3 linked regions of the Homo sapiens genome follow. The protein of the gene in region 2 interacts with the protein of the main gene of each other region in a biochemical or structural test. Each region holds a gene or a part of one and is shown on either strand. Other genes may lie near its edges. The genes, in order: KCNJ12, LIN7A and PALS2.

Evidence for each region.
Region 1: the proteins of LIN7A (region 2) and KCNJ12 form a complex in vitro, tested with the Homo sapiens proteins (2 studies listed by BioGRID and IntAct, with this or other methods).
Region 3: the proteins of LIN7A (region 2) and PALS2 form a complex in vitro, tested with the Homo sapiens proteins (one study listed by BioGRID).

Annotation. Positions count from the first base shown.
Region 1 is NC_000017.11:21,368,889-21,380,897, forward strand, and holds the start of KCNJ12 (ATP-sensitive inward rectifier potassium channel 12), read left to right. Parts: upstream 1-7,468; 5' UTR 7,469-8,025; intron 8,026-8,031; exon of another isoform or gene 8,032-8,438; intron 8,439-12,009. UniProt on the Homo sapiens protein: Inward rectifying potassium channel that probably participates in controlling the resting membrane potential in electrically excitable cells. Probably participates in establishing action potential waveform and excitability of neuronal and muscle tissues.
Region 2 is NC_000012.12:80,789,912-80,797,597, forward strand, and holds the end of LIN7A (protein lin-7 homolog A), read right to left. Parts: 3' UTR 2,609-7,686; downstream 1-2,608. UniProt on the Homo sapiens protein: Plays a role in establishing and maintaining the asymmetric distribution of channels and receptors at the plasma membrane of polarized cells.
Region 3 is NC_000007.14:24,566,904-24,579,442, reverse strand, and holds the start of PALS2 (protein PALS2), read right to left. Parts: upstream 5,992-12,539; 5' UTR 5,850-5,991; intron 5,478-5,849; exon of another isoform or gene 5,165-5,477; intron 1-5,164.

The sequences.
Region 1 (12,009 bases), on a different chromosome or scaffold from region 2:
AGAGCCTCCCTCTGCCCTTGAGGAGCCCCCATTGTGAGGAAGGAGCAGAAGCGGAGAGGAAGAGCGTCCCCAGGGAGCTGTGGTGGGGAAGCCCAGGAGGCTGTGGGTGCCCAGGGGAGGCGAGTGGCTGGCTTGGGAGGGTGGGGCATCCGGGGAGGCTGGGAGGAGGCCTCTCCACGGAGCACCCAGTGTGCGCCAGCCCTGTGCTGGGTCGCCTCCCATGTGTCATTTCCTGGGAGGGTTGCATCACTGATTCACTCCTCCAGTGGATAATCTGAGTGCCTACCTGGCGCTGGGCACTGTAAATAGCACTGGGTGTGAAGCAGGAGCCTCTCAGCGGGACATCACGCCCATCCTACAGCTGAGGAGACTGAGGCTTTGAGGGAGAAGGCAAACGCTTGGGTCCTATGAATCATCTCCTTCCTTCCTGGTCCTTGTCCCTGAGAGCTGCTTAGACTGTGGGTTCTCCTATAAAGAGCAGTCCTTCCTTCCTGGTCCTTGTCCCTGAGAGCTGCTTAGACTGTGGGTTCTCCTATAAAGAGCAGTTCTGGCCCCAGCTGGTTCCTGAGAATGAACCCCAGGTGGCCAGGCCAAGCCAGCCCTCTAGCCCTGCCCCAGAGGGCCAGAGGCCAGCTGCCAGACACCCATGGAAGCTGCCCTGGCCTGACAAGCCTTTGAACCCTGCTCCTGTGACTCTGGCCTCCTAGGACCAAGGTGACCTGGGTGGTTGCTCCAGTTTGGCCCTGGCTCATCCCCAGCCCACACTGGGCCCCCGGCGCCACCCGCTTGGAAGACCAGACCCTGGCACACTGAGGTCCAGGGCACAGGACTGGCTTGAGCCCTCAGAAGTGCAAGCCTGTTTCACAGACAGAGGCCCCGAGAGGGTCACTCCCGGGGTCTGCTCAGTTCCAGGCACAGAACAGCAAACTTCTCGGGAAGCCTAGACCAGACACACCGGGGGTGCAGCTAGAAGGGGCTCAGGCTCTCTGAGTTCAGCCTGACCACAAGGGTAGGGGACAGTGGGGAAATGGAGGCCTCGAGAGACCCCAGAGCCAGGGGCTTTGCTGTGGGGCAGGTCCTCGAGGCTGGCTTCTAGCCTTCCCAGCTCTCGGAAGCCTTTCCCGGCCCCAATGCCCGGTCATCAGGCTTTATTCCATTTACAAATAACTTGACTTAAAAAAAAATTGCTGAAACAATAAATGCTTGCTATACAAAATGCAAACAAACAGCCCTGAAAGCGTACAATGTGCCCACGTACCCAGAGTGCAAGCGACTCTCCTTCCTCAGGGCCCAGTGAGGCTGGGCTGAGTGCTTGCCCACGTCTCCCGCCTGCAATGGGTGGCCTGGGATCCCACCAGGTGGGTCCGAGCCCAGAGCCCTGGGGAAACAGGTTTAGACACTTTCCTCCGTGCCACAGTGAATGAGGAAAAGGTCCCAGGAGGACACAACCACCAACAATTTGCCTCCAAACTTCCAGATTTTTCTCTTTGCTAATGCAAATATATCTGTCGTTTTTCTTAACATAAACAGAGTCGTGCAACAGGCCCCACGCTGCCTTTTGATTCTTTTTTTCTCTGTGTGTGTTGGGGGGACAGTGTGTTTTGGACAGTTCACACTGCTGTCAGAACTGGCAGATCGACCTTTCTATTTCAGTCAGGCCCAACTCAGAGGGGCCCCGGGCCAAGGACTGGAGCCCTGCCCCCATGAGGAAGGAGGGTCATGGGGCTGGTGCTGGGGCAGAGGCCCTATCTGTGGAGTGATGGCCCCACGTGGGGACAGGGAGGAGGCAGGCAGTGCCCACCAGGGTAGAGAGGGGCTGATAATTGGCTGGATTATCCCGGCGGGGAGGCCTCCTTGGGGAAGCTATTTTTAACTCTGAGAGATGCTGCAGCCACTTCCCTCCCTCTCTTTATTGCCCTTTATTCCTGGGGCCTGCAGGCTTTGCCCGCCTTCCTGGAAGCTCTGTCCCTTTAGAGGCAGGGAGGGATGAAACGCTCCCCTCACATACCATAGAGTGTGGTCCCCACATGGTTCTGGCAGGGTTCTCATGCGCCCCTTTTTAGAGAAGGAGAGAGAGCTTCAGAAAGCTTGAGGGGCATTTTGGAGGACTTGCTGGTCTTTTTACGTCTATTGCCTTCCCGGCAGCCCCTTGAGGCTGTTAGAAATTTCCTAAATTAACAAAGGGGTGGTTTTGGCTTACAATAAAAAGCCCATGGGTGGATCTAAGGGGCTCAAAAGACCAGCCCAGAACCTTGTTTCTCTCAATATCTCAGCTTTGCTTTCTCTGGGTGGGTCTCATTTCATGCAGGCTCACCCTACCTGGGGGCAAAGGTGTCCCCGGGGCCCCTGGCCAGCCCCAAAGCCCTGGGAAATACAGCTCCTGCTTTCCTGCAGACCCAGCAAAAGTCCTAGGGCTGATTCTCATTGGCTGGCTTCAATCATGTGTCCATCTCTGTACCATTGCTGTGATGCTCACAGCCAGACCTGGGTCGCTCACCCACCCCTGGGCCCTGGGGGTGCCCCAGGCCCACAGGAAACATATGGTGGAGGGTATGGTATAGGAGTAGGGAGACCCCAAGAACAAGGCTCTCAGAAGAGCAGCTTGGACATGGGAGGACTTGGACCAGTGTCCAGCATGCCTCTAAGTCTCTCAGCCAGACAGAAACCCTGACACCTAGGTCTGCCCAGGAGATGCCAGATGGAGCATGGCTAAACGTCCTGGCCTCAACCTTGGCCCTGGTGGCTGCCCTCCTGGCCACAGTTAGTGCATCCTCCTCCCAGCTGCTCCTCCCGCAGAGGGCGGGGCCACGGGAGTGCCGGAGCCTGCACACGGGAAATAAGTCAACCGGTCAGCTCCAGGCCCAGCTGATCAATGCCTGCCTCCTGATGGGGCAGGAGGGACTCAGTGTCCTGTTTCCAGGGCCGCCAACCGTTCCTGAAGTTCTGTGTGCCTCAGATCAATGCTGCAGGGTCAGCCAGGGGCCCAAGGGCACCTGGGCAGGGGGAGGGGCGTGTGTGCATGCACGTGCGCGTGTGGGTGTGACTGTGTCCTGGGTCTGGGCCATGTCCCCACAATGCTCCTGGGGGCAGCCACGTCCTCTTGGGCAAGTGCTTCTACCCACCTGGGCGTCATTTCTCCGTCCATCTGCCTGTGGCCTGTGGCGCAGGTTGGCATTTAGCCTGGAGCCTAATGCATGGCAAGTGCGTGGTGGGCATTGGCCCTTGTCACTTTTGCTGTTGTTAGTATCATCAAAGTGTCTAGTGACAAAAGGTGTTTAGGGAAGAGACTGGGCTGAGGGCAGGGCTGCTAGAACTGGTCTCTGCTCTGTGGCTCACTGCCTGAGGGACAGAGCCTCTTTCCACCTTGTCCAGCCAGGGTGTGGATCTGGCTCAGGTGGAAAGCAACCCCACCAGAAGAGCATATCCTGGAACCGACCAGCACAGGTCCTCCTGCTGGCCTTATGGTGGGTGGGGGTGGGAGGCCAGGTGAGACCCAGACCCTGGCCGCCTGCCTGGAGGAGGGGGCAAGGCTTGTGCTGACAGACAGCCTGTGATTGCAGGGGCCAGCGCGGCTCGGTGATGGTGCAGGTGGAGTTGGGAGTGGCTGTGAGAGCCAAGCTGCGCAGAGCAGGGTGAGAGAATCCCTCATGGATGAGACGTTCCTGAGTCGGGTCTGTGAGCACTCGTTTTGCACTCACTGCATGCCCTCAGCATGTGAGGTCCTGGGCTGCAGACACGCCTGAAGGACATGCTTCTGCCCTCATGGAGGTGCCATGCTGGTGGGGGGACCACAGTGAGCCAGACACCTCAGAGAGTGGCCAGCTAGGGAAGAAAGCAAGCTGAGCACAGCAGGTGCGTCCTGGTGGTCGGCAGGCCCCTCACGGATGTGCCGTCACAGCTACCCTTGCACGTGAGGCAGTTCAGAGAGACAGCGTTCCTGACTGAGGGGGAGGCAGGCCCCAAGGTCCAGTGACAGAATCAGGCTACTGGTGCCCAAGGGCCTGAATGGCCAGTGTGTTCAGAAAAGAGTGGCTGAGAGGGGGAGGGTGTCTGGGGCCTCAGGGACTTTGGCTATCACTCCTAGAAAGGTTAAACTGGGCATGCTGAGAGCTCATTTTACATTTTGATGGTGGGAAGACGTGAGGGCCAAAGCCGGGCCAAGGTCTAGGGTGGGCAGGGGAAGTCTCAGTGGGCTCTTGGGAGGAGGCATCTTGGAGGGGAGGAGATGCTGGGACTCTGGGGAGCACTGGTTGCAGCTGCCTGCAGGGCGAGCAAAGCCGCTGGGGAAGGGCCGTCTGGTTTCACATCTCACTCGGTGATGGACTTATGCCTCCCACAAGCGCATCGGCATTGTGGCATCAAGATGTGATTACCACAAGAGCTGGCAGCTGCTGTCGAGAGGCTGCAGCTCTGGGGCTCCTACACACAGGGCAGCGAAACCAGCCTTCGGGACACCTGCCCTGGACAGCTCAGTGGTCATCGTAGCAACCTTCCCTCTCTGGGCCTTGCTTTCCTCAAAACAAAGCCATGATTCCAAATGAGCCGAGGAGCTCTTCTGTCTCCTGGGCCTGTGGCTCCAGGGACACTCAGATATGCAAAGGCGTCTTGAACAGCCAACACGCCCACCCAAAGCTGGGAGAGACTGGGCTGCAAACAAGCCTCAGTCTCACCCCTGTCTTGGAGAAGCTCCCATCCTGGAGGGGAAGAAAGAATCTGGGATCAAGGGAAAGCCAGGTGCAGGGCACAAAATTCAGGGTGTTGGGAAGGTGTGTGCGTGGTGGGACAGCTGACTGCTGTTCATCTCCCTGGCTTCTCCCATGGCTGTGCCAGGAAAGTTACTACTCTCATGGCCTCGGCTGTCACGATCACCCCCATTTTACAGAGAGGGAAGTGGGGCCTTAGCAGGGGACGTGTCCCAGGTCTCCTGCTGGGCAGCGTTGGTACTGGGCTCAGTCCATTTGGCCTCACCCAGCCACTCTCGACACTGCCCCCTCCACACTGTAGGGGCAGGATGTCCTCTGCTCAGGCTTCACGCAGCACCCCGGGAGGGCCGTGAGCCCCTCTGCCCACGTGGGGATCCCTGGGGCAGATGTGTGAGCTGCTTAGGGAGAGATCTGCCCACATCCCTGCCTCTTTGTGTCCCAGCCCCTCCTGGAGGGAGGCTGGTGCCCAGTGGCGTGGCAGAGGGGATTTGCTTTGAGGGGCCCTTAATGGCTGCTCATGGGTTGCAATTACAATTAAGAATTGAACTCTGACCCTGCACGTGGGTTGGGAGGGTGGGACGTGGAGCCCAAGGGAGTGGCCCAGGGAGTCAGGCTTGCGTCTCTGCTGGGTGACCTTGGGCAAGACGCTTGCCCTCTTTGTGAAATGGGTCTGATAATGGCTCTGGGAGTGGGGATAGGGAGGGGCGGAGACCTGGCCTGACTCACAGTAGTCATCTTGGGTGTCGAGCCCCTGGGCAGGGGCCCTGTGTGTGTGTGTGTGGGAAGGGGGGGGTGGTGTTCCAGGCGTGAGGATGCCCTGGGCACAGCCACTTGTCCCAGGAGCTGTCAGAATCTTAGACCCAGAGGAGCCCTGAGGTGTTCCCGTCCATTCCCTTGCCCCTTTCTAGGCCACCAGAGTAAGGCCTCGAGGGAGGGATGTCTCAGGCCCCATTCCTCTTGGGACAGCTGAGTGGTCTCTGAGGGTGGGAGCTGGTTTGAGGCTTCTTCCGCAGCTGGCTTGGGCTTCCCCATCTGGGAAATGGAGCAGGGGCAGGTGGGGAGCTGAGTCATTTCCCTCCTTGGTCACTCGGAGGGAGAAGAAGGAAGTTTCCTGAGAGCTTTTGGTCCCCTGGGAGGCTGTTTCTCCCAGGAGGAGGAGGAAACCAGGACACAGTGTGCCAGGCAGGGCAGGGTGGGGGCTGCAGACTTCTGCGATGCCCCTTCTTTCTCCACTGCAGCCCTAAGTTGAGGACACACCTGATTCTGCGTACTGGCTCCACCATCTGGTAGTTCTGTAATTAAGCAAGTGACCACCCCTCTGTGCCTCAGTTCCTTCATCTGTAAAATGGAGCCAATGAGCTTATCCACCACAGATGGCCGCAGTGGTAATGAAATAATTCTAGCTGGGTCCATAGCACAGAGCTCAGAACATATTGAGTGCTCCGCCTGGCTGTTTTACCAGCCAAGTCAAGTGCTAAGCACTTTAGGTAGACTCATCTCATTTAATCCTTGCTACAGCCCCATGAGTGTAGTGATTTCTACTGACAACAGGGAAACAGAGGCACTGAGTGGTGAAGTGACCTGTCCCACAGCTAGTCAGTTGAGGTGGGATTCAAACCCAGGGCAGACTGATGTCGGTGAGTGCTGGGCTGGATTTCACCCACCAGCTGCCTGGGGCCAGGATCCTAGGGCTGGTGGGGCCTGCAGATCACTCTGCTCTGAGCCGCCAGCAATCTGGGTGCGGGCCAGAGAGCCGTCCTCCTCGGTTAGAATCCTGCAGCCAGTCTCCCTGCTGTGCAGACACATAATTATATTTCACATTAAAGGGGAAGCTGGAGGCCAAGGGGGCCAAGGAGCCCTTTGAGGCTCATGCTCTGGGCACAGACTGGCCTCCTCGGCCCAATTCTGAGGCCCTAGGGCCGAGCTGGGGGTCAGACTGGTGACAAAATGGAGTTCCCCTGGGTCAGTGTCCAGGCGAGCAGGTCTGTCTGCCAGGATGAAAGACTTGGCCCCTGCGGGAGGCTCAGAGATATGAGGCCCAGACAATAGGCCTCAGAAAGCTGGGAGGGCAGGGCATTTGGGGACAGGTTGGGAAGAAAGCCTGAGCCTCCAGAGACAGGGGCTCGAAAGAGAAGGGGGTCACATGGGGATCCGGTCGGCAGAGAGAGGTCCAGGGAGGAGCACAGAGAAGGCAGGAGATGGGAGAAGCCAAGCAGCTCAAGATGGAGAGGAGAAAAATGCTATTAGGGTGGGATGGTGTGTGTAGAGGGTGCGTGCCTGGTGTGCAGGGGAAAAGGGCTCTGTGGGAATGCACAAGCTTAGACCTGTGTGTGCGTATGCACACGTGCAGATGCCATCCTGCATGTGCACATATGAGCGAGTGTGCACATGTGCCCCTGCGAACATCATGCATGTGGGGGCATGTATCCTGCATGTTTATGCCTGTGTGTGTGCTCGCCATGCACCTGTGCGTGCGCGCGTGTCCCCGGCGGACGTGCCTGCATGTGTGTGTATGTGTGTGTGCGCGCATGTCCCCGGGAAGTCGTGCCTGTGTGTGTGTGTGTGTGTGTGTGTGTGTGTGTGTATATATATATGTGTGTGTGCGCGCGCGCGTCCCAGTGCGCAAGTGGCTGGCGGTGTGTGTGTAGGGGGCGGCCCGGGACTAGGAGGGGCTCGGGGCCAGGCCGGAGCCGTGGTAGGCTGGTGCAGCGGCTGCGCGGCGCGGCGCGGCGCGGGGCGGGCGTGCTCTCCGCGGAGAGTTAGAGGAGTTGCCGAGCTGAGCTCCGGTGGAGCGAGGCGCGGAGCTGGGTGCGCGCCGAGCCTCTGCCTCCCGCCGCCTCCTCGCCCTCCATTCCTCGCTCCCCGTCTTCTCCCGGCCACACCGCCACTGCTGCCGCCTCCCTGGGAACAGTAGCCGGGGGAGGGGGACTGGCGCGGTCAGAGCCTGCGAGGAGGTGCGGGGCGCCGGGGCGTAGGGGAGCGCGCCGGGCCCTGCCCGAGATCAGATAACAGCCGGCGGGGGAGGGGGTGGGCCGGCCGTGCTCACAGCCGGACCGAGGGACCGACGCCAGCCGCCCCGGCCCAAGCGAGCGCCCAGCGGCCGGGGGCGCCGTCCAGGCGCGCGCCCCCGACCCGTGGCTGGACCAGGGCGATCCGCTTTGCAGAGAAGACGCGCCCCTCGGCATGGAGCGCCCCCGGGAGCTGCCCTGAGGCGGTGGCGGCAGCGGCGGCGATGCAGCCAGCGCGGCAGCTGCCGGGGCCAGGAACGGCCGCCCGGAGCTTGGAGGACGCCGAGCGCGCCGCGCCCGGGCCACTGACCGAGGTAAGTGCGCGGCCGCGGGCGCATGGTCCCTCCCGGGCCCGGCCCCAGTTCCCCGCAGGCCGCGCCTCGCCACTAGCCCGGCCCGGAGCTAGCACGAGGTTGTGCAGCAACAGGGAAGGTGGAGCGGGAGGGTGTTTTCTTCCTCTCGTTTTATTTTTTTCCCTCCCTTGGTGAGACATCGGAGGAAATGCTGACTGCGAGCTTTTCTTTTCCTGCCATGTCTCCGGCTACCACCACAAGGAACTTTGCTCCTGGCTAACCTTCGTCCTGGGGGGCGCTCCGGGAAACTTTGAGGAGCCCTCGGCCCCCCTCTGACTGGTTTGCACTAGGGGGCTCGGGAGGGAGCGTGCGGAAGCACTCTGGCGCGCGGCACGGGTCCTACGCGTGACCTTCCCGGAGACCCCGCGATCGAGGTGGGGTTCGGAGGTGGGCGCCCGGGCTATATGAGCCGCCCCGAGAATGCCTCCCGTCAGAGACCTGCGGGTTCTTGGAGTCGTGTCTCTTTCTCACCTCCCGTGCTGTAATGGAGTAAAAATATTCTGGAAATGATTCCATGCCAGCAAGTCAGCCAAGTCCAGAGGCTCCCTTTTGCTTTTAGAAGTCGGCCTTGATCTCCGAGGGGATGGCCGCTGGCTGAGAAGCTCCCAGGGTTTCAGGGCCAGGGTCCACCCTGCGCGCGCACGGCCTCTCCGGGTGCCCTGGGGGAGCGGGGCGGGAATCAGGGGCTCATGGGCAGAGACAGCTGGGGTGGGGCGCTCCTTGGGGGGTTCAGATGGGAGTTGAGGCCCAAGCGAGTGTCTGTGCCTCGGTTTTGATCCAGCGTGCCCATGTCATGTGAATATTTTAAAACCTGTGATCAGAATGGGGGTCAAAGTGTTTCTTTGGGGACGGTCTTGTTCTGGGAGGTTTTCCTGCCTCCTCACAGCCTGGACTCGCCCGCACCTGGGACCTCCCCCTCCCCATTTCCCAGGGGGCGTTCCCATCTTAGAGTACCGCGCTGCCTGTGGCCATTTCTAGTTTCTTTTTTGCTCCCCTATACCCAGGTTCGAGCCCTGCAATAAAGCGCTGGGGACCTCCTGGCTCCCACATCTGCGCCCCAAACCCAGGTTCACAGGCTCCGTCTCCGAGAGCGCCGAGGCGCCCACACGCCACTGAAATCGGCAGCCGCCTTTGGAAGGTGCGAACCCGGAAGGCGTTAGCCTTGGGCCTAGCCTTCGCCCCCTCTGAGATGCCAAAGGAGAGCCGGTCCCTGGCCGCGCGGCTGGACCCCAGCCTCCCTCGCGCTGCGCTGCACCTCCGCGGCCCCTCCTCGCGCAGCTCCGCCCTGGACCGCCGCCCTGTGGCGGGCGAGGGTCAGAGAGGGGAGGTCCATCTCAGCCCTGGGCGCCACCAGAGGCTTTCGCTCTTTTTGAGGGGTACTCCCTTCTGTATTCTGAGAAGAGCCCCTCAGTGTCTGCTGGGACCGCCCCCCCCAACAAAAGACTTCACAGCGAAGTCTGCCCCTCAGTTCTCTGGTGGCACCTCCAACCAGACAGGGGACCCGAGGTTGGCAGCTCTAGGAGGGGGACCCTGGGGGCCTGCCATTTGGTGGGGCCAAGCCGCCTGAGAGAGAGCAGGGAGTGAGGGCGGAGGGCACTCACTCGAGCACCCTGGAGACGAGGAGGGTGGCTCCAGTGTGCTGGGCCACAGGGACACCCCTCTTCTCCACTGGAGGGCCGCTGTAGGCATACAGTAGGCAGTCTGTAAATGCTGGCTGTTGACCCAGAGCTGGCAGGTAGGGGCTCCAAGTCCTCTATCACCTCCTTTTTCCCCTCCCAGGGGAGGGCATGGCTGACACCCCTCATCCCCAGCACTGAAGGGGGTGGAGCCTTCTCTGGGAGGGGCAGGACCTGAGCTGTCAGTCCATCTCTGGACACTCCCCCTGCAGCTACCCCGTCAAAACCCCATAAGGTTTCCAGGCTGCCCCGGAGGGGACCCCTCCAGGAATGTGCCTCAACTGTGCTGGAAGGAAGAGGTGCCTGGGAAGTGGTGGAGGGGTATTGCCTAAAACCATGCAGTGGGTTGGGTTTGGACAGATGCCTTCACCTAGCTCTTTCCAGGCCAGGCGCTTACCCCACCAGCCTTCCTGCCCCAGGGCCATGGTGTCCCCATCCCTGGGTCTCCTTGAAGCAGGACAAAGTAACACTGAGTGGCCCTGCAACAGCAAAATAATAATGACAGCAGTGATAACAGGAGTAACAGCAGCAGCAGCACCTGCAGCTCTGCAGCACTGGGGCCGGTTCTGCCTATGGGCAGTTTTCTCTGCCTAGCCAGGCCTCCGGTACCCTGGGCCACAGTTGGCAGTACCAAGCGTGGCACCCGGAGGCCTTGGCATATGGCTGGGGCGGAAGTGAGTGCATCATTACTGTCATCAACCTCTGTGGCCCTCGCCAGGTCCCCAGGCAGAAGGCTACTGGTACACACGGTGCCCACCCAGTGGCCACCCTCACCCCCCCTGCTCCCAGGCCCAGCTCTGGGCTGGGCCCTTCCTCCAACAGGTGCAGCTGGTGCCTGTGGCTGGGCCCTGGCCAGGGCTTTACTGTGAGCGACACATGGGTACACCTGCCCCTCCCCGGGCCTGCCCTTGGAGCCCTGCCACCGGCTAGCGTGGAGGAGAGTCAGGGAGGGGGCAGCTTGCGGGCAGCAGGAGGGGTGGAGGCTTGGCTGGCCACATGGAAGGTGCGGTGGGTGGGGGCTCAGCCCCACGGGATGGCTGTGCCGGGAACTGGCAGCGTGATGGGGACACGGCAGCAGGGAAAGGCTGAAGATGAAAGAGAGCTGGCCTGAAACTGGGCCGTGTGCAGGTTGGCCAGAGCTTCAGAGGCACCATGGGGTTGGGGGTGGGGGGGGGCCTGGCAGAGGCAGGTGGGTTTTCTGAGGTGCTGGGCTCGGGGCAGGACCAGAGCCCCCGCTGGGCACTGGCCAAGGACCCAGCCCTGGGTCAGCTGACTTAATTTCCTAATGGCCTGCCAGTGCAGAGGGTGGCATTAGCTCTATTGTGCAGACAGGGATTGGAGGCCCAGGGAGGCACTGGAGGCACCAGCCTGTGGGGCTCAGACCCAGAGCCCTGGTGCTTTCCCAGGGACAGAACTGCACCTTCCCCCATTCCACAGACACACCCCTCAGGGGCATTTGACTGCCAGGCTAGCTTTCTCCCTGCCTTACCACCAGGCAGGTCCCACACAGGGCCTGAGGCCTGCATGCCATCCCAGCTCCCGGGAGCTGTATTCCTAGGACCTAGTTAAGCCCTGGCACAGAGTAGGTGCCCAGTAAATGCTCGATGATTCCATGTCTGGACTGCTTCTTCCAGCCACAGAGGCCTTGCTGTGCTGGTGAGAGCTGTGGGGGCTGAGTTCTGGGGCTGGAGACCCCAGGCCCTGTTGCCTAGCTGTGGCCCCTGTGCTGGGTAGCCATACAGAAGTGCTTAATCAATGGGCATTGCATACGGGGAGACCCAGCCCCTGCCCTCAGGGATCTCACTATCTCAGAGGAGACTCTTGGACAGACTCAGGGGGGCAAGAGAGGCAGATGTTGCCACCAAGATGGGGTCACTCTTCCTGGCCTCAGTTCATCATCTGTGAAGTGGGACTGGCTCCGGAGAGTGCTCAGGATGGGGCAGTAGGAATGTGAGACTTGGAGCGTGCCTCTGGGAGTTGGGGGTGGGGAGGGGCTGGTCTCAGTAGAAATGGACGTGTGGAGAGGGGGATCTGGGAAGGAGGGGGTGTGAGCATTTGTGGAGCCAGAGCCTGGGGAACTCGTCATTTCCCCATCCAACCTTCCCTTGGACATGTAGGGAAGCAGGCCCAGGGCAGGGCAGCGAGTTGCTGTAGCAGTGGGCCCCAGATGGCAGTGGGCCCCAGATGGCAGTGGGCCCCAGATGGCAGTGGGCCCCAGATGGCAGTGGGCCCCAGTGCAGGCCTCCTGTTTCCTGGTGTGTCCTCAGTG
Region 2 (7,686 bases):
ATCCGCATATAAACCCAGGCATTGCAGCCAGCATCGGCAACCCTCTTTGGGTCCCCTCCTTGTATGGGAGCTCTGTTTTCACTCTATTTCACTCTATTAAATCTTGCAACTGCACTCTTCTGGTCCATGTTTGTTACGGCTCCAGCTGAGCTTTCGCTCACCATCCACCACTGCTGTTTTGCCGCTGTCACAGACCCGCCACTGACTTCCATCCCTCTGGATCCAGCAGGGTGCCCGCTGTGCTCCTGATCCAGCAAGGTGCCCATTGCCACTCCCGATTGGGTTAAAGGCTTGCCATTGTTCCTGCATGGCTAAGTGCCTGGGTTCATCCTAATCCAGCTGAACACTAGTCACTGGGTTCCACGGTTCTCTTCCATGACCCACAACTTCTAATAGAGCTATAACACTTACTGCATGGCCCAAGATTCCATTCCTTGGAATCCGTGAGGCCAAGAACCCCAGGTCAGAGAACACGAGTCTTGCCACCATCTTGGAAGTGGCCCACCACCATCTTGGGAGCTCTGGGAGCAAGGACCCCTGGTAACAGTTTCAAAATTATTTTCAGTAATTTAAAATTTTAAAGTCAACTTTTGTTAAATTAATAGTCATAAAATGCCTGAGTCATTTTTAAATAAGGTAAAATACTGAAATATTAGTTATCAGGCATGAGTTTAAGTCTATATACCTTGACATATTATTTTTATACAGTATAGAAAAGCTAAATATATTTAGATCTGTTAACAATAATTTAGGAAAATGTCTTTCTAAAAAACTATAAACTTCTTTTTATCTATAAATACTGATATAAAACAGTTCAAAATTTCTTCCTAATATTTTCACTAGAAATTAGGGTTACTGAGAGTTAAAATTGGAGTTAATGTAATTAAAACTACTAGATATGAAAAAAACAATTATTTATACAGAATGTATAAACAAAAGCAAGATACGCTTTTGGTGAGGAAAGTTGTAAAGGCATAAAGGTGTGTGTTGACATAAAAATAATTTTGTCTAGTGTAGAAGTTTCTTAAAAATTTCAAATTGAATACGAAATAGGTAAAACTAAATGAATATAGAGAGTTTGGAAGAGCTAGAAAATGTAAAACAAAAAAGTGTGTATGAAAATATTGTGTGGCTATAAGATGACAGATCTGATAGATTTATAAGGTTTTATTAAAATTAGCTTTAGTGTTGATAATATACTAATCCAAAAGTAAAATTTGGTTTTCTCTTTTGAACAAAAATTTTTTGTAGTGTTAATATGTCAGTAAAATGTTTTTGTTCACCTTTTGAGTAAAAAGCAAAAAATAAGAAACAGTGATGAGAGAGAGACATATTCCATCTCATGCTCTATCTCTCAGGTATTTTGATTGTTTGGGAAACCGGGTCTTCTCTCAAAGAGTAAAGGTTTTTGCTTTTTTTCAAAATCTTTAAATTATTATTTTGGCTACATGGATGATCATTATTTTACAGTGGCCTGTGATTCTATTTTGGTTAAGTGTTTTAAAACACATATTTGACAGGTTTCCTAAAATCAAATTTCATCTTCATAATTAAGTCTTTTTTTTTTTTTGACCTCTAAAGTTAGGATGCTAGAGAAGGTCCCTGCAGCTTCCAAAAGCGAGAGAAATAGAATTATTTGATGTATTAAATTACATGGGAAGCCTTATCAAATACGAAATGATGTTTAACCTTCTTTGAGTTGTATTTCATAAATATGTTATTAATATATGTTCCAAAATTGTATGGGACTCCTAAAATTCTGATATGTCTGGGTATAGACTATCACTCATAATTATGGTTAATATGTTAAATTATTGTAGGCCACAGATATAACCAAATTTCCTTGTGGATTGTGTCCTTATGCCTATCTTAAGTCATTTCCACAGTTAATTGCTTAATTCTGATGCAGTTTCTGAAAACTTCACAAGCAAGCAAAATCCTAGAATATTTGTGTCTTCAAAGAGGTTTGTGAAAGGATGGAAAGGACACTGATAAACATTCTTGAATATAGGTTTCTGGTAACTACATGACCATATAATTTGAACTGGGTAAAAATTCCCTTTATGATTCATTTTATAATAAACCAGTAAACTAAGTAGGTGTTTTCCTCAGTTTTGTGAGCTGTCCCAGCTGAACCCAAAGAAGGGCTTGTGAGAATCTCAGTCTCCAGCCAGTCAAAGGACAGGTGACAACCTACTACTTGCAATTGGCATCTTAAGTAGGCTAAGTGTTGTGAGACTGAGCCCTCAATCTGTGGAATCTACACCATCTTCAAGTAAATAGTTTCAGAATTGAATTGAATTATAGGACATCCATTTGGTACCTGCTTGGAAAATTGATGGGGTGGGGGGGTGGGGAAACCTTTACATTTGGTCACAGAAGTGTTCTATGTTGAGTTTGAGACTAGAAAGCAAAAAAAAAAAAAATTTGTCTTTTCCTTTACAGAATCTAAGCCCTCAATAGAATGACACCACTGTGTGGTCAAGAATGGAGAAACCCAAGAAACTTAGCATCCCAATATTGAGGTGTCTTCAGTATCTAAAAATTCTTTTACATCCATGCTTTAAAAGAACTTAAAGTCATTTGATAATGAAAACAATACTTCCAGTTTGGTGTCTAATACTTTTACTTCCCAGCAGCATAATACCACTTTGGTCAGGTTGAACCACTGCACAATTTTGCAGCTCTTTCAGAAAAATAATGAAAACAATTGGAAAGACATGATGTACATGCAAATGGTGAGAAAATGATACTATTGTCCAATCCTTTCCCGTAAATGTAAAATATCCTTAGTTCATCTCCAAACTGTGTATTTATTATAAGCCCTTACATCAGGGATTTTGTTTCTTTCAGTTTTTGTAGCACCAAATAGACACAGCGGCTAACAAGAAATAAATCTGAAAAGTCACTGAAATATTTATCACATGTCAGAAATTTTCTGGTCTGTACCTTTAACCATGTTCCTGGCTTCACATATTCTTCTTAAGAGTAAGCTATAACATAAGATTGAGTTCCCACCCTGTGTTTGCTACTGATGTGATTTGTTTACCATGAATAATACTTTGTTAATATCTTTTGTATATTACTTTACAATTTCCAAGTATTTTATATACAGTGACTCACTTAGTGACTCATTCATTTTAATGTAATGGTGTCCCCCAAACCACAGATAATGATTAGACACATGAACTCTTGTGTCAGATTGCATGGGTTCAAATCCCAGTTCCACCTGCTAGCTGTGTGACCTTGGACAAGTCACATAATATATCTGTGCTTCAGTTTTTGTATCTATAAAATGGAACCTACTGAATAGAGTTGTTGAAGGGATTTGGTGAGATAGTCCATAAAAGCACTCAGCACAGTGGCTAGAAAATAGAGCTGCATAAATGTTAGTTATGAATAAATTACTTACCTACCTCACTGGGGTATAACCGTGGTTTATAGATAAACTAAGCAGCATTTTTGAGCAGTGGTTTTAGAAAAGCAAGCTCACACAAATCTGTGCAGGGAGTATTTCATGACTTCCATGGGGTGAGGAATTTTATTTTTTCTATCAGGTGTGAAGAGGACCCAATGGACAGTAAACTCTCTAGTTATTGCTAGAGTAAATGTTGGAGAGTTTCTCACAGTAACCTCCAAGAGGGATTGTGTCTGTCTTGTTTGCTGTTGCATTTCCAGAACCTAGCATGCACTAGGTACACAATAAGTATTTGTTAAATGAATAAACACATGGAAACATCTGAGTAAGTATGTGATTAAACTTCAGCTTAGTGTATTCCAGGAATCAAATATGAAAGGATAAATGATCTTTTGAAAATAGGAAGAGATTTAGGGATGGTGTCTCCAATTATTATGAATTTCTTAGAGAATGGTTGTTAATAAATATCAAAGGGGATAATATGCCTGATGATCTTTTTATATAAAAATGAAAATATCTTTTATAAAATTTAAAAATGGGGTTTTATGTTTGAATCATTCCTGCCAGATAATTCAGGAAGCTTGTATAAAGAACTAGAAAGGTTGAGTTCAACTCAGCATAAAAACTCTGTATCCCCAAACATTGTTCCTTATCCACTGTTCAAATGTCCTCAAATCTTTGAAGCCTTTAAAGTAATTAATGAAATTTCAAATTCATACATCTAAAAAGTTTTTATATAGACTCAAAATATGGTTCTAACCATGAAACTTAGAAATCATAGTGACAATCAGTATAATATAAGCTGGTAAAATTTGTGAGATTTTCAGAAGGCAAAATCCATGTTTTTTGTCTATTCACTGATTCAGCCACTTATTCATCCAACAAATACCGAGTGCCTACATTGTGCCAGGCAGTGGTCAAGGCAGTCACAGCCCTTTCTCTATAGTTTTCCAGCTAGAGAGGGATGAGATGGGTTGGACCACCCCATATTTTGGAAGATCTTTTTCTATGTTGGCCTCCCTGAATCTTCAGAGCATTGAGTTCTAAGTTGTCTAAAGCTGGTCTTATGAACAGGCTGTGTCTGTATGATAAAAACAAACTAGTTAAAAGATGAGAAATTTAGGCATTATTCACACATCCACACATATCTATAGATGTTTAAAATAATGTAGACAAAATATTCCACCTCTTGGGGTCCTACGGGCACAGTTGAGTAACATGAAATGAGATAAGATCAGTTTGATGTCACAGTTGAAAACTGCATTTGTAAATCTGTGTAATCCATCTCGAGCCAAGTTCTTTGGAGACAGTCTAAAATCCTTAAAAAGCCTCTGCATGCTAGATTTTGCATTTAGATCTAAGTATTGTCTTAAAAGACTGTGATTGTTCACATAACTGGAGAATTCCCTATTGACTACATGATTGAGGAAACACAAAAGTCTGTTATTCTTTCCAAAGTCAATTGTAACTTAAGCTCATTATCTCCCTGCAGATGTTCTATTTCAAATGACAACAGAATCAAAATGTAAATGCTCCAGTGAAAAGGCTTGGAAACTCTTTTACTGAACTGTGCTCTATGTATTTGCCTTCAAAATCATAGCAGGAAAAAGTTTAGAAAAATCTATCCCACCGGCCACTGACCTAAAAAAGGGAAAAAATTAAATTTCACCAGGATTTCTGGTGATATCGTAGAAGTTTTTTAAATTATAACGTTTAATACCTAATTTGTTTATTACATTGAATTGAGCTTCATGTCAGAGCAATGCAGGTTTTTATTTTAATATAATTTGGGACATGTCAGTGGCTCTAATATGATCGTTAATAATGAAGATAATTAGTATAATACAAGTTGTGGTAATTTCCTTCTTCTGGCTTCAGTGAAACTTAAGAGAACCACAGGTGGCTTAAGTCTTAGTGATGGCTACCTCTGATTAAAACTTTAGGAAAAGACTTACATTTCAACCAACAAGATTTTACTGAAGGAAAATGGTCATTTGTATATGAGACCACTCTGACGTATAATCCATCCTTAGATGTCCTAGGTGTGATGGATTGCTTCTTTACTTTGACAAACAATCTGGTATGCCTTTATCAGCACTTAACATTAACCAAATGAAGCATAAATACAAAGGTTTCTAGAAAACACAAATGTAAACTATCTTACCATTTGATAGTTGTTTCTGTAACACTGTGACAATATTTGTATTGATGTGAAACCATATGATAACTTTAATTTTGACCAAACATTTATGACTAAGTGAAAACATACTCACTCACCTTAAGCTCCAAATTTATACAATGTATTGAAATGTGTTGAAATGACCATTTTCTCATGACAAGGGTTCAGTGATTTCCCTTCATGAGAATCCTGTGGCATTGCCTGAATAGCTTTAATATATCTTTGTTAAATGATAACTAAAATATATGTTTTATTAAATTTTTCTTATAAAAATGTGAACTATCTCTTTCAAACTGAATAATACATCGTCTCCATTCATTCCCTTTTATCATGCTTGTCCTTTTTGTAAATCTATTTTACATAACATACAGGGTCCTAACTGCCCCCACCTCACCACCCCCGTTCTCTCTAGTAAAAAATGATATGTATTCAAGGATGGGAATCTGTTATCACAGGGGTGTATTGTTGAAATTAGCAAATGTCCTAGTTTTCTTGCTGTTTTTCCTCTGGTGAGGGATGCATTGTGAAGAGCAGGGAAAACCTGGTATTGACAATACTATCACCCAACAGGGCATAATAAAATGTGCTGGGTAGTTTTGATTGGTTTTGTTTTATTTTCAAGAAGACAGTCTAAACTGAGCTTCATACATTTCTATTTTGGGGGATTATCTGAAGTGTCAAATTGTATTGTATCTTGGGGAATCAATTTCTGTATTTGAGAAAAGGGAACATTCAAATATTTGCCTGTGGTTTACTGATCTATTTTGAATACTTCAACTAAGCAATTATTCTTTTCTTAGGTTCATTTATGTGCTTAAGGTATTCAAATGCCCAAACAATTATTGCTTCCTATTTATTTCATAAAGTAAAATCAGACTTAGGTGCCTAGATTTACCATAAACCAAAAATTATGACCTGTAAATGTAGTTATAACAGATTATTTTCCAGTGAATGATATTTTCTGAAAAATGATATCTCATTGTCTATTTACCTATGGGAATATATTAAAGTTGGTGATTTTATTTTATTTTTCTAGAGGAAGCAGCATCTGCCATTCACAATATTGATATCACTGGTTTCCACCTGCCCAATTATAAGAGAAATAATACTTGTTTATCTGAGAGTGCCAAAAATATCTGGTTTATATTTGGGGAAATTGACCTAAACTTTGTGTGACACAAATATTTGAATATATATGCACATATAATTTAGTTTTGCTAAGCTTTAAAATATGAAATAGGCTTCTATGACAGCACATCAGTGTGAGTAGAGTTTAGATTTCTTCAGTGTTTATCAATCAAAAAGTATAAAACTCAAAAAATATTGAGAGTGGGTTTATGTATATAACATACGAGAATCTGTTCACAGGGCTAGGTCCTTTGCTAGTATTCTCTTACTAGATTCTTAATACTTGGTAAGAAAAGAACCTAAGTTGTAACAAATGCACTCTGATAATATATATTTTATAGAATAAATATACATTATACTCTGTTGGAATTAATAATAATAGATACAAGCAATAATTAAAAACTACAGTGCTAGAGTTCCTACACTTGCTTCTAACAAACTAAAAGTTGAGCTAAAATTGGTCCATTCTATTAATGCATAATAAAATTCATGGAAACAAAAGAAAAAGCCGATTGCTTCTAGAACCTGAAGAAAATATAAATATAGTATGATACCTTGCGATTTTCAAGAGGAAAACAGGTTGAACTTGCAATTAACTGGAATTCCAATTCAGACAACTCAGCACTATGGATTGTGGAGCAGGTGAGGGTAAGGAGCAATGTGTAGGTTTCACTTTGAACTGATGCAGTTTGAATTATAGCCTAATGAGGGGTTTGCTAATATCTGGAAAAGCTATGGACCCAAGATTCACTCAATCTTGGCCCTGGTGATTTATTTAAAAGTCATAGACTTTATTCTTCTTACACTGTTTCAGTTTGCAGACTAGAAAACCTCTCCCTCTGCACACTGAGAATTCCCACTGCAGTGAATGGAAGGTCAATGTATGTAAAGCCCACGTGAGCAGTGGCGGTTCAAGCCCAGAGAAAGAAGGTGTTGAGTTGCCTTGGTAAAGAATTTATAC
Region 3 (12,539 bases), on a different chromosome or scaffold from region 2:
AAATAAGTTGTGCATTAACTTTTTACCCTTTCACAAACATCTGTATCAATTAAGGCATATTTCCAGCCTTTTCTATTTACCTTAATGCTCTTCAGAAATTTCAACCACATCAGATTTTGATTTGTGTTTCCACCAACAATGTGAAAGCCCCTGTTAACTAATAGCCTCTTCAAAAGTATTATCAAACATTTTCCATCTGTCAGTAGGTGAAACAGTATCTCATAGTTTTTATTTATAATATTTGTATTATGTGTGAGGTTGAATACCTTTACAGATGCTTACAAAACACTTGCATTTCCTTTTCTGAGAATTACTCTGTTCATGATCTTTGCCCACTTGATGGTTGGTCTTTTCCTAATTGGTTAGTAGGTACTTTATATAAAGGAAGTTAGACTCTTATTTATCATACAAATTGCAAATATTTCTACCAGTTCCTCCATTATCATGCTATTTTTATTTTACTTCCTTTTTGTATATATTTTATCTTCCTCAATCAAACTGCAAATCATGCCCATGAAAGATATCACATTTCTTTTCTATATCTCCAGGAAGAGTGCTTTTCAGATACTTCAGATTTCAAGATCAAATTTAAAAAGAGGAGAGACGAGTGTTTTGCAGCAGATGAATAAGTATGAACATTAATTATCACAGGGGCACCTACTTGGATTGTCTGTTTAATCCCATTACATGTGGTTACAGCAAGTACAACCAAGTTCTAATAATGAGATATAGTTTATTGAACAGGGAAGAACTAGATGAACCTTTCTCCAGTTTCCCAGGCTGGTATCATGAAAACTCAGAAGCTACTGGTGGCCATATTTTCCACTAAGAGGACTAGAAGTGGTCCTCTGCAGCAAGAGAAGGAATGAAGCAAACGCACAGAGAAGAAGAGAGAAACGATATGATGTGCCCTGCAGGCACTGGAGTCCCAGTCCTTGCATTCCACTGGACATTGGCTGCATTTGAACGATAAATTCCCTTTATAACAACTAGAATGGATTTCTATTACTTATGGCCAAAAGAGGCCTGTTTACCATACTACTATCATTTTATAAAGGAGCATTTGAACACCGAAACCTCAGAAAGAACATGACCTCAGATTTTTTAAAAGGATGATTTATTTAATGACAGCTATGTGCCAGGAACAGGTCTAAGTCCTTGAAATATAGTGTTAATCAAAAGAGACAAGATCAGCAGGGTGTGGTGGTTCATGCTTATGATCCCAGTGCTTTGAGGCACTGAGGCGAGAGAATCCCTTGAGATCAGGAGTTTGAGAGCAGCCTGGGCAACACACACAGCAAGACTCCATTTCTACAGAATTTTTTTTTTTTAATTAGCTCGGCATGGTAGTTGTTGCCTATAGTCCTAGCTACCAGGAGGCTGAGGTGGGAGGATCACTTGAGCCTAGGAGTTCCAGGCTGCAGTGAGCCGTGATCACACACACCACTGCACTCCAGCCTGGGGTGACCGAGTGAGATTCTATCTCAAAAACAAAAACAAAAAGAGACAAGATCATTGATATCACGGGGCTTATATTCTAGTGAGTATGGAGATTATAAAATAATATAAAAACATAATTTCAGATACTGATAAATGGTTTGAAGAAATTTTTAAGTAAAAAAGGTAATGGGATTGAGGGGGATGAGGCTAGTGTCATTCTGGAAGGATGGTTAGGTAGCAATGCTTGTCTGAAAAGATGATATTTGAACTACAACATGAAATGATGAAAAGTAGTCACTCATGTAATGATTTAGGAAGAGTTCCCAACAGAGTGAACATAGTGCAAAAGCCCTAAGTTAGGAGCAAGCCATGGCATTGATGAGGAACAAAATGAAGGGCAATGTAGATGAAATATAGCAAAAAGTGGAGGAAGAGGGTAAAGAAATGATAGATTTAAGAGGAAAAGATGTAAATTGGTGAAGGAGGGATTAAATCATGTACAAAACTAGCAAGCAGTAGAAAGGATCTGAAAATAACTTGAGCTTTATGAAATATTCATTATATTGTCTTTAATTCTCATTTTGCCTTGTATCAGTGATAACTCTGACAGATAGGCTTTTAGAAACTTCCATTCCCAAGTACTTAACACAATCCTAAAGTTAGCCAGAGATGAATATATTCCTAAGCAGAAAGTATCTCTTCTAGTACACTATATTAAAAAAAAAAAAAAAGGAAAAAAGGAAAAAAGAATTTTCGGATGAAAGCAAAGTCATCTTAAAGGAAAGAAGGAAAATAACCTAGGATGAAGGAAAAATAGAAACTAATTTTGTTCTGTTCATTACTCTGTGAATATACTTACTATGATAAAGATTATAGAAAGGTCTTTGAATTAGTCTATCATAATTAAGGAAGGTCATAAAACTTAAGTTCTTTCTAAACTACTATAAACGTAGCAGCCTCTGTTTACTGAGTTCATTATTATTGAATTGGACATTAACAAGGTTAAATACTGTCAGAAAAGAAAAAGTAGAAACCAGGCTTTTGACTTTATTACACCTGGTAATAATGGTCACAGCTTAATGGTTAACAAAGTTGTGGGCTTTAATCTTATCTATATGACTATGATAAAGGAAGAACTTCCCCTCTGCGGTGAAATGAACACTAAAATTAGCTACATGGGATGCTTCAATATCTTCTCCTCCAAAAGCTTTTTATAAGAGGAGACCAATTTGTTTAAAGGGTTTGGATATAGATACACTTCACAGAAGAGTGATGATCTTTCCAGATCCTTCCAGACAACTAATATCTGTGTACTCTAAGCAAGCAATTAAACCTACACTGCTTCTAAGATTAATGCAAGTAAAGTCGGATCTTTGAAAGCTATAATGTATTCAGGAATCTTATCTTTCATTATGTTAGAGGCATACTTAGACCACTTAACAGTAGACTGTTAATAACACAGTCTATAAAGAATGATACTTTGTAAGCATGCTGTGAGTTAAAGAAAGAAAAGTCATTAAACACCTTGATTGAGACTTGCTTCAGAGTGCATCCTCCTCAGCACACTACCCAGCAGTTTGACAAAGTGCCCAGGATTAGCAGCCAATGTATGTAAAGAAGGAATATGGTCAAGCCCAATTGTAAAGTCTCCCCCCAGTGGTCAGATACAAGTAACAGAAAAGGAGGAAAATCATTGCAGCTTCTGTGAGACTGAACAGGAAGACTAAACAAAACTGGTCCCTACAACAAAAAAATAAAATCTTTAATTCAATACTAGCACCATATCAGGAAAGAGATCTCTTGTGCTTATCTGCTCTTATATTTATAAATGTGAAGACTACTTTTCTAAAGAACCTACAGTTAAAACAAAACTAGCATAATTTTTCTCCGCCTAAGTTTTAAGGAATAACTGACATATTCCCAAACAGTTCAGTATTTATCAAATGGGTAAGTGTTCATTCTTCCTGAAATAAACATCAGCACATCACTTACATGGTTAACTATACTTACCTGAAGTAGAGTTCTGATTTAAAAAAAAAAAATCTAGTCACTCATCAAGTGAATCACTCTGGAAGGAAAAATTATTAACTATTATATACCTAATGTGAATTTTACAAGATACTCTTTTTCAAAAGTCACCTAGCAATAGGTAATTTATATTAGAGTGATGTCAAAAGTATAAATGCGTCCTCTTACCTCTTTTAATTTTATTTTCTGGCTGTTTTTTTACAATTAGCCTTTGACTAGCACTAATCCTGTATTATTTGTAACTCTCTCAGCAATAATATGATGCTACTCCATTTTTACAAAGCTCAGATGTCAAAAATATGAAAGACATTTAATTAAAATATCTGTTTTATTCTGCTAATCCATTATTAAGTAGTAAAGCATGTAAAGGGATAGTAAATATTCAAACAAGCAACTTCAATTTTAAAACAACTTTTTAAAAAGATAACACATAGAGTCACAGTTATGTCTTCTTGGTTATCTCAAGCTAAAAAGAGGGGGAGTGGGGAGAGAAAGAGAGAAGCAGGCTATGTAGTGCTCTGGAACAATTTCAGCCTAAAATGAGACTCAGAAGCAAACTGCTCCCTCAAATGTTTAAAAATATGATTCATTTTTAAAAATCCAACAGTTGGCCTAAAGAAAAAAAAAGATTCTGTCTTATATAGAGCTACTAGACTTGCTTAAACACCTTAATTTTTCCAGTGTTGATTTAACCTAGAATGCAAAATAATTCATTTTGACATTCCAGATGTCAAGAATTCGGTGGCATCAGTAAGGACACATACACACCTCTTTCATAAAGATGGTGTGCAGTCTCCATAGGACAAAATTGAGCAATTAAAAGTGTTACCATTTGTGTATTATGTAACCGTAGTCCAGAATGAAGGAAACATGGACCTTAAAGAGTAACACATCGTGCAAACACGCATTTAAACACCTATTTAAATATATGATAGATTTAAGGTACAAATGACCTCAAAATGACACAACCCACAAAAGTTCTTTGTTTACTGTTAACAAGGCCTCAGAAGACATAACTATAATCAGGCCTACTACCCACTACCCTATCATTGCACAGTAGATGCCTACAATAAGCAATATTACTTGAGGTCCGTTGCTATACCTATATACGGAAACTATATACCGCATTACTAAAAATGTTACTTCGCCTGGTATATTCGACCAACATAAGTTTACAAATGATTTGCAAAATTTCACGGGAAGAAATGGCTGCTAAATCATACTCCAATTGAAACGCATTTTAACGCACCCCAAACGTTCTCAGCTACACTACAAGACCACTTGTAATATACTTGAAGCACAAAGTAAAATTCCAACACTCTCCAAAGGCGTAGGAAAGAATAAAACGTGGCTAGCCTGACCTTACCCGGCTGTTTATAAGTAATGCGGAGAATTTTCTGAGCTTCCCCGGCAGTCTTCAATTCTCTCCCTCGCTTCACCCCCACCCCCTACACAGATGCACACCCAACTGATGGAAGTTTAACAAATGTAATCTCGAGCTGCAATCCCAGAAACTGGTAGGATTGAGAATAAACTCCCAGTAAAGTGTTAAAAAGTCCTTCTGCAAAAAAACATCTACCAACCAATCCACATCCTGTCACCACACGGTCGGATACCTCAATCGACTCCCCTGCTGACCCTCCACCCAGCCAAAATAAAAAAGCCCCAGCACCTATTTGGTTTCAGACAAACGTACCGAGAATCCGCGAGCACGATCTCAGCAGCGAACGCCCCCGCGGCAGCCTGTGCTCGGCCCACAGCCACTTTGGCCAAACAACTGGAGTCTCGTACCTCGGAAGTAGCGGCGGTAGTTGGAGAAAGCCTCCTCCCCTACCAACTCCGAGCTCGGGAGAGAACCGGGAGCCGGCGGAATCACCCCCTCTCGGGACAGACCCCGGAGGTGTCAGTCACAGCAACGCCGCCCCCAGGCCGGCTCTCCATTCAGGCTCCACCGCGACTCCCGCCGCAGAGGTGTAGGCACCCAAGCCCCGCGCCCGAAGGGGCCCCGCGCGTCTGCGGCCCTAGCCCCAGTCGGGGCCGCGCCGGGGAGCGCGTGGGGAGCGGCGGCAAGCAGCATGGGCCAGACACGTTGCCGAGCTCCGGCCCGCCCAGCCGCCCGCAGCCAGAGAGGCAGGAGCCCGGCCGAGCGCCCCTTCCGCGCGGGCCGGGCTGGGGGCGGCCAGCAGCCTCCCCGACCGCGGCGCCGCCGCCGCCGCCTGCCGGTCCCTCTTCCCCGCGCCCGCCGAAGCCCAGGTGCCGAGGGGGGCGGGGCGGGCCAGGGTCCCCGCGTGGCGCGCCGCGCCGAGCAACAGGGCGCCCCCGGCCGGCCCGGCGCGCGGCGCGACCGTTACCCGAGCGGCGTGGGGGTCCAGTTAACTCACCGGCTCGCACCTCAGCCGCCTCCGCGCCGCCGCTGCCGCCGCTCCCGGTCGCTCCCCGCCGCCGCTGCTCTCCCTCAGCCACAGGCGCCGCCGAGCAGCCCCATCTGCAAACTCGTGGCTCGTAGTTGAGAACTGGAAATGCGTCTCTCACTGCCCTCCGCCTCCCTCTCTCTCCTCCCCCTCCCTCGCTCCCCACTCTGCCCCAGCTCCGGTCGCCCCCGCCGCTGCCTCCGCGCGCGCAGCCAGCCGCGCCTCAGCCGCCCTCCTCCTCCTCCTCCTCCTCCTCCTCCTCCTCCAGCCGCCGCCGCCGCCGCCGCTTGGGCGCGCTCCCAGCCGGCCTCGCGCGTGCGCCGGACGTCGGGGAGCGCGCGCTCGGGCGCGAGGAGGTGCCACCGCCTCCGGAAAGCCGGGCCCCGCCCCTCCCGCCGCGGCTGGGCGCCCAGGTGGAGCCCCCTCCCAGCTTCTGAGCGCCCAGACTGACTGCGCTCTGCGCCCGGCCGGCTCGCTTCAGGGGTCCCGGACCTGCGCCCGCGAGAGAGGGCTGGTCGGACCCAGTCCCCGCCGGGTCTCCTGGGCCGAAGTCGCAGCTGTCTGTCAGCATTTACGGGTGGGCAAGATACTCCTCGGGGCATAAAACAGGCTCCGCCCTGACCTTTCTGAGAGTTTTACATTCAAGAACCCAGTCGTGGGGCACAAAAGAGAAATGGAACGAGAAGAAAAGCCTCTGGAAAAATCTCCCCCTCCCCCTTCACAGACTCCACTGGATCTGATGTGTATTTGGCAGGTTCTACGGCGCTGACTGTGTCCTTCATTAATTTTTTCCCAAAGGCCCGACCGGGCAGTGTGATTCACACCCGAGGAAATGCATGGACACTGGCTCTTTTCATAGCACCGAGGCTCCCGTGGAACTCCCTGGGTCGGCTTTGCCAGACACTCCCTGGACACAGTTGTTCAGCTCCTCCCCAGCACCTGGGCTTCCCAGACCTCAAAAGGGTGGGGTTGGGGAGGGCATGCCATCCTTTCAGCCTGGACTCTGCGTAGAGCTTGGTGAACTGTGATGAGTGTCCGGATGTGTAGATGACACATTTTGACAGAAGTGCAGATTTAATTTTTCAGTTGAAAGGAACTGAGCAATGCACTGCAGCAGAGACTTCTGGCTAGAAAAACATAGCAAGGCAGCCAGAGAACTTCCGATCCCCTTAAAAGAGCTCTGTGAACCCTCAGACCTGTGACAGGCGGCTTTTGGAAAAACTATTGTGTTCTTCCTAAAATTGAAGAATGTAATTTACATTTTACAAAATGCTTACTGCAATCTTTTCAAACCATGAACGTAGAAAGTGCAAGTCAAACTTTACGTGTGAGGAGTGTTATGAGGTGGCCTCCTCTGTGCAGCCTTTCCTGGCTTCTCTTGGGCACCTTGCACAAACCAGACCATTAATAAGTGTTTGCAGAATAAATGCGTGCATCATGGCCCTTTGGATTCAGAGATGAAGTTATAAGTTGTATTGTCTCCTCTCTTTGTGAATGTGGCAGGCATGGAAGGGAGAGAGAAAATACTATTGATGAGATGTATTAAGAAGGTCCAGTGTCCAAAACAGTGATTTTTGTGTTTATCCTCAACCAAGCATCAAAGATTAATTTACTTTTCCATTAGGATCATTAATTTTGCAAACCAACATGCAGGGGGGCCTTGTACAGTGTTAATTTAGAACCTTCTTTCCTGGAACCACAAACCCAGGCAAAGGTAATTGGAAGCATTTAAGGAGACTCAAACGTGCCCAGGGCACAGAGTAGCTTTGGGCCCCCTGTAGTCAGGATGGCTGGATGAAATGAAGTGGAGTGGGCTCGGAGCCCAAGGCAGAGACAAAGCGGAAGGATGGGGTTTGTCTTCTCGGGGTGTCAGCAAGACCTTTCAGGTCCTTCTTGCTGCCCCAGGCCCACTTGCTTCTCACAGGACACCCATGGGTCCTCCCTGCTGTACCCTACCCAGGCTTGTGAACTCTTTTCCCTTCTGACTCTTAACCTTAACACATCCCCTTGGACCCAGCCACTTAGTTACTTGCCCTGAGCTTCTCTGGGGTTGGGGTGGGAGGTAGGGTATGAATGTCATTTCCAGATATGTTAGTGATCCTTAATAGTGCACTTTTATTTCCTCAAGGGTCTTCTGGAAACAATGTCCTAACCTACTCTACCCCTGCTCCCTGCAAGTAGAATGATGTTAACTGAGGAAGTTTTAGGGAGGGAGGGTTTGGGGTAGGCTCTGCCCCTCAAATTACATGCAGACCTACCTGACTTAAAGCTGGCACCACTCCTGGCCAACTGCTTTATCTCTGCATCTACCAGAGACCCAGCATTTGGGAGCAGGAATACAGGAACAATTATCTTTCATTTGCAGTTCCAAGTCTGTGCTCTAAGTAATGACAGCAGCTATCAGATGGAGGCTTATCACTGCCGTAAGACTCAGCTTCATTCTTAGAGTCAGAAAAATGATTTTGCTCCAATAACTGTCTTTGATTGCTCCCCTTCAGAAAGCTCTTGCCGGTGAAGTTCCTCTCTCAGTGTCAGATGAGTATTGTATCAAATACTCATATACAGTTATAAAAGGAAACACTATTTCCTTTTATAAATGATATTCCCATTTTATAACATTCTGCCCTTCCTCTAAACTTTAAAGGTGGGACATGCCAGGATAAATTTAAAGTGTTCTCAGTTAAACATTGGAACTCCCATCATTGGTTCCCAACTCAGCTTTCTGAGAGGTCATCATACTGAGACACCACCATCCATTTCCCATACCGGTTACAAATTCTTCATTCCAAGAAAGGGGAATGATATGATTGAGAATGATGGTGGATCTTTCTCTTCAGTGTCCTTAATAGTCTGACTTTTCATTTCCTTCAAGGTTACTCTAAAGGGATCATAATTTTACCACAGCCCAGTATCTCCCAACGGTAATTCAATTTAAAATTTGAATTTTGATTCTTAATTCAGGAGCATCCATCACTCAATTTTGTTTCCTCCTTCAAATGTAAACAACATACACTTTTAATGTGATTACATTTTCTTTTCTCTTCTGACCTGCTTTGCTCCTACAGAAATTGAGAATTTTGCTAATAGCCCCGAATTTTAGCAAAAGCAAATCCTGTGTACTTGTTTTTCAACTAATCCATCATAGTAAAAGCAGTGACACTCCTGGAGGATAGCTTTATTTAAAAATGCAACTGGCATGCATCACAAAGTCCAACCAAGTTTTCCTTCAGAATACTTTATTTAGCTTCACTCCTTTTATCTCTGCTCACAAAGCTAGGTCAGATTCCAATTTCCAGCCTCCTTGCTAACCTTTCTAATTCTAGCCTCTCTCTTGCTTCCTTGCAATTTATCCTATACTCAGAGCAGTGCTTCTTAATTTTTGGCTCTTTATTGAAATCACCCAGAGAACTTTAAGAAACAAAACAAAGCACTGATGCTTTGATGCCATCCCAGACTTAATTGCTCTGGAGCACAGCCTGGGTGCCAGGATTTTTTCAGAGCTCTCCAGATAACTCTAATACGCAGCCAGAGTTAAGAACTATGGAAATGAATCATCTTCCAAACAACATTTATACCAAATCTTCACAACAGTGGGGTAGCTCCAAATTACCTCGAGTAATCAAATTAAAATTCCTAATCCTGTGCTTTAAGACTCTTTGCCAATTGACTAGAATAGTCCCCTTTCAAAACAGCTTAAATTTATCTCCTTCCTAAAGCTTCTCCAGATTAGTCTCACCTGGCTGCCTGAAGATCACCGTTCCCAGCTCTGAGCATCCCGACTGGCACTGGTTTACAAACCGCTGGACCTCAGTTGATTGTGTACATTATTGTTTTAATCTTGCTTTCATAGATATTTGTCAGAGGCTTTTCTTATAATCTAAATCTTTCCAAAAGTCCCACTGGGTCAACTGTCTCAAACAGAAATGTCTTAGCAGAACTTTCTCCTCTAAACTAGCTGTCTGAAAAAACATTTCCTGATACGATGGCAGTTCTTTTTTTTTTTTTAATCATCACAATTAAAGCCAAACATTATAAGAACTTGAGTTTTGGGGTTGTTTGGTTTTTCCTTAAAAAAGAAAACTATATATCTCAGCATATCTCCTTGACTTTTCTTACCATTATTTGTTTATTTTAGGCATTGGAATTGGGCTTCCACACCCACTTCTCTGCTGAAACTACTATTTCCATCACAATTAACATTTTCATTCATGTGTTCATCCATTCAGTCACTCATTTACTAGTGAAGCATAATGAAAATAAAAAAATTAACAATATCAAGTAGTCCCTACCTAATGGCGAAGAATAATAAGCAAAATATTACATAATAAGTGCTATGCCAGGTGTCTTAATAGTATATGACAGAATTAGTGGGGAAGGTCTTTGCTTAGTGTTCATGCCATTGAACTTCTCTGCAGTGTTTGAGGAGGTTAATCTCTCGTACTCTCACTCTCTAAACCTCTCTTTTCCTTTAACTTCTCTGATACCATACCACCTGGGAGCTCTTTCGACCTCTCTGACTGTTCCATCTCTGACCCTTACTTTGCTGTGTTATCTCCTCCTACTTCCTAAAGAAAAATGTTCCACTAAGAATGAAATAAATTTTTGAGGAGAAACTTAAAAAGAGCAGATAGTACTGTTTATCTTGAGAATCCCAGGGATCCTTAGGACTCTAGCACCAATGCTTCCACATCTGTATCTATTCTCCCTTGAGGCATATTTTCAACTCGCTGTTGAAAATTTCCATCTAGATAAGCTATTCACGGGGTTGCTCCTGCTGGTTTTTCTGGCACCTTCCTTTCCTTTACCTCCTTTTACCATCTCCTGAACAAACACATACTCAAATCCCTTGCAGCCCACTTTCTCAAAATTATAGGAATGGATTCTCTTGTTTATTTGCTTTAGTCCTACAGAGTCTCCTAACTCATCTCCCTGCCTCAGGGCCTCCTTGCCCTGACTGCCAGGTGCCAGTCATTTTATCCCTGTCTCCTTACTGCCTACGGGACCCCATTTACAAGGTCATTCACAATGACAGTCAAAGCTTCCCTGTTTGGATATTCTAGTTAGTCATATCTTGTATCTTTATGTTTCTACCCCTGTTTTTGCCTTCTGCCATCTCTGCTGGCCAAAATCCAAGCATGTGTGCTCATCTCACACCCTCCTTTTCCATGAAACCCTTTCTGCCTCACCTCAAACAGAGGTACAGTAGTCCCCCAGTCCCCCCTTATTCATGGTTTCACTTTCCAAGGTTTCAGTTTTCCTCAGTACAGTATGATAAGATATTTTGAGAAAGAGAGACACTATGTTCACGTAACTTTTATGAAGGTATATTGTTATAATTGTTCTATTTTATTATTAGTTATTGTTAATCTCTTAACGTGCCTAATGTATAAATTAAAAACTTTATCATAGGTATGTATGTCTACAAACCATAGTACATATATATATATATATATATATATATATAAAATATGTACAGTGCAGTACTATCCATGGTTTCAGGTATTCACTGGGGGGCTTGGAATGGATGCCCTCTTGGATAAGAAGGGACTAGTGTAATTGCTCTCCTTTGAACTCCTGTAGCACTTTAATTGCATCTTATGGCTCCTTTCCTATTCTGCTTCATAAAAGCATCATTTATGTTTTCAAATATTTATCTTTGCATTCTTTTTACCGCCACTCAGCCCCATCCCCTTCTTTCTTGCAGGTAAAATCCAGGGTGATGTGTACAGGAATGCCTGTAGCACTTGGCATAGTACTGCACATAGTAGCTGCTCATTTATTGAAACAGATAAACCTGTTAGTTGGTAGACTTCTAAAATTAAATAAAATTAAGTGAAAAATGTTGCTAATTACAATTGAACACTTGTTCCAGAATATGCAAGTTACAGATGAAAAGCTCTTAGAAAGACAATCAGATTTCAAGCAGTGACCTTAATTGAGCTTGACTTTATCTCACCAGGAGCCAGCATCTATATGTAATTAACCCTTTTAGATACTCATTTAAAATCGGCCTCTAAATTCTACCTCTCCCATTATATATATGAACTGAAAAAAAAATCCTTCTACTCAAGTATCAAAAAGAAGATTAAAAAGACATAGGAAAACAGGAAAAACCTTTCTTAAAAATTTGTAAAAATATATAGTGTCAGTATAGTGTGTACCTTTCCCCATTGAAAACACAGACAGGCACGAAGTCCTGGAGGGCAGTGGAGGTCTTCTGGAAGAATCTTCTGGCATGACAGGCAAAAAGGGTGTCAATGGTGATTAAACATAAAAACAAAGGGTCAAACTGTGAGGCCGATGCTCCTCCAAAGGACTGAGGAGAAGTCGTGAGGGTAAGAGCAAGTCATTAAGATGCATAGTAGGCTCTTAAGACATTTTTGGTAAATAAATGAATGAAAGATGGATAGGATAAGGGACGTGGAAGCAATGATGGAAGTCGGGGTGTATGTGTATGAGTCGGGGCAGCCATGGCAAGCTGTTTTGGCTGTTAACAATCTGGGAAGTTAATGGCCCATTTTAAAGCAATGCCATCTTCATGCTAGGAAGTACAGGGCATTTAGTTTTTCCTTAAAATATCAGCTGTTTATAAATATGAAAGACCAAGTCTTTTTAAAAAATCCTGCTTTGGTAATAATAGCGAATGACAACTATCTATTG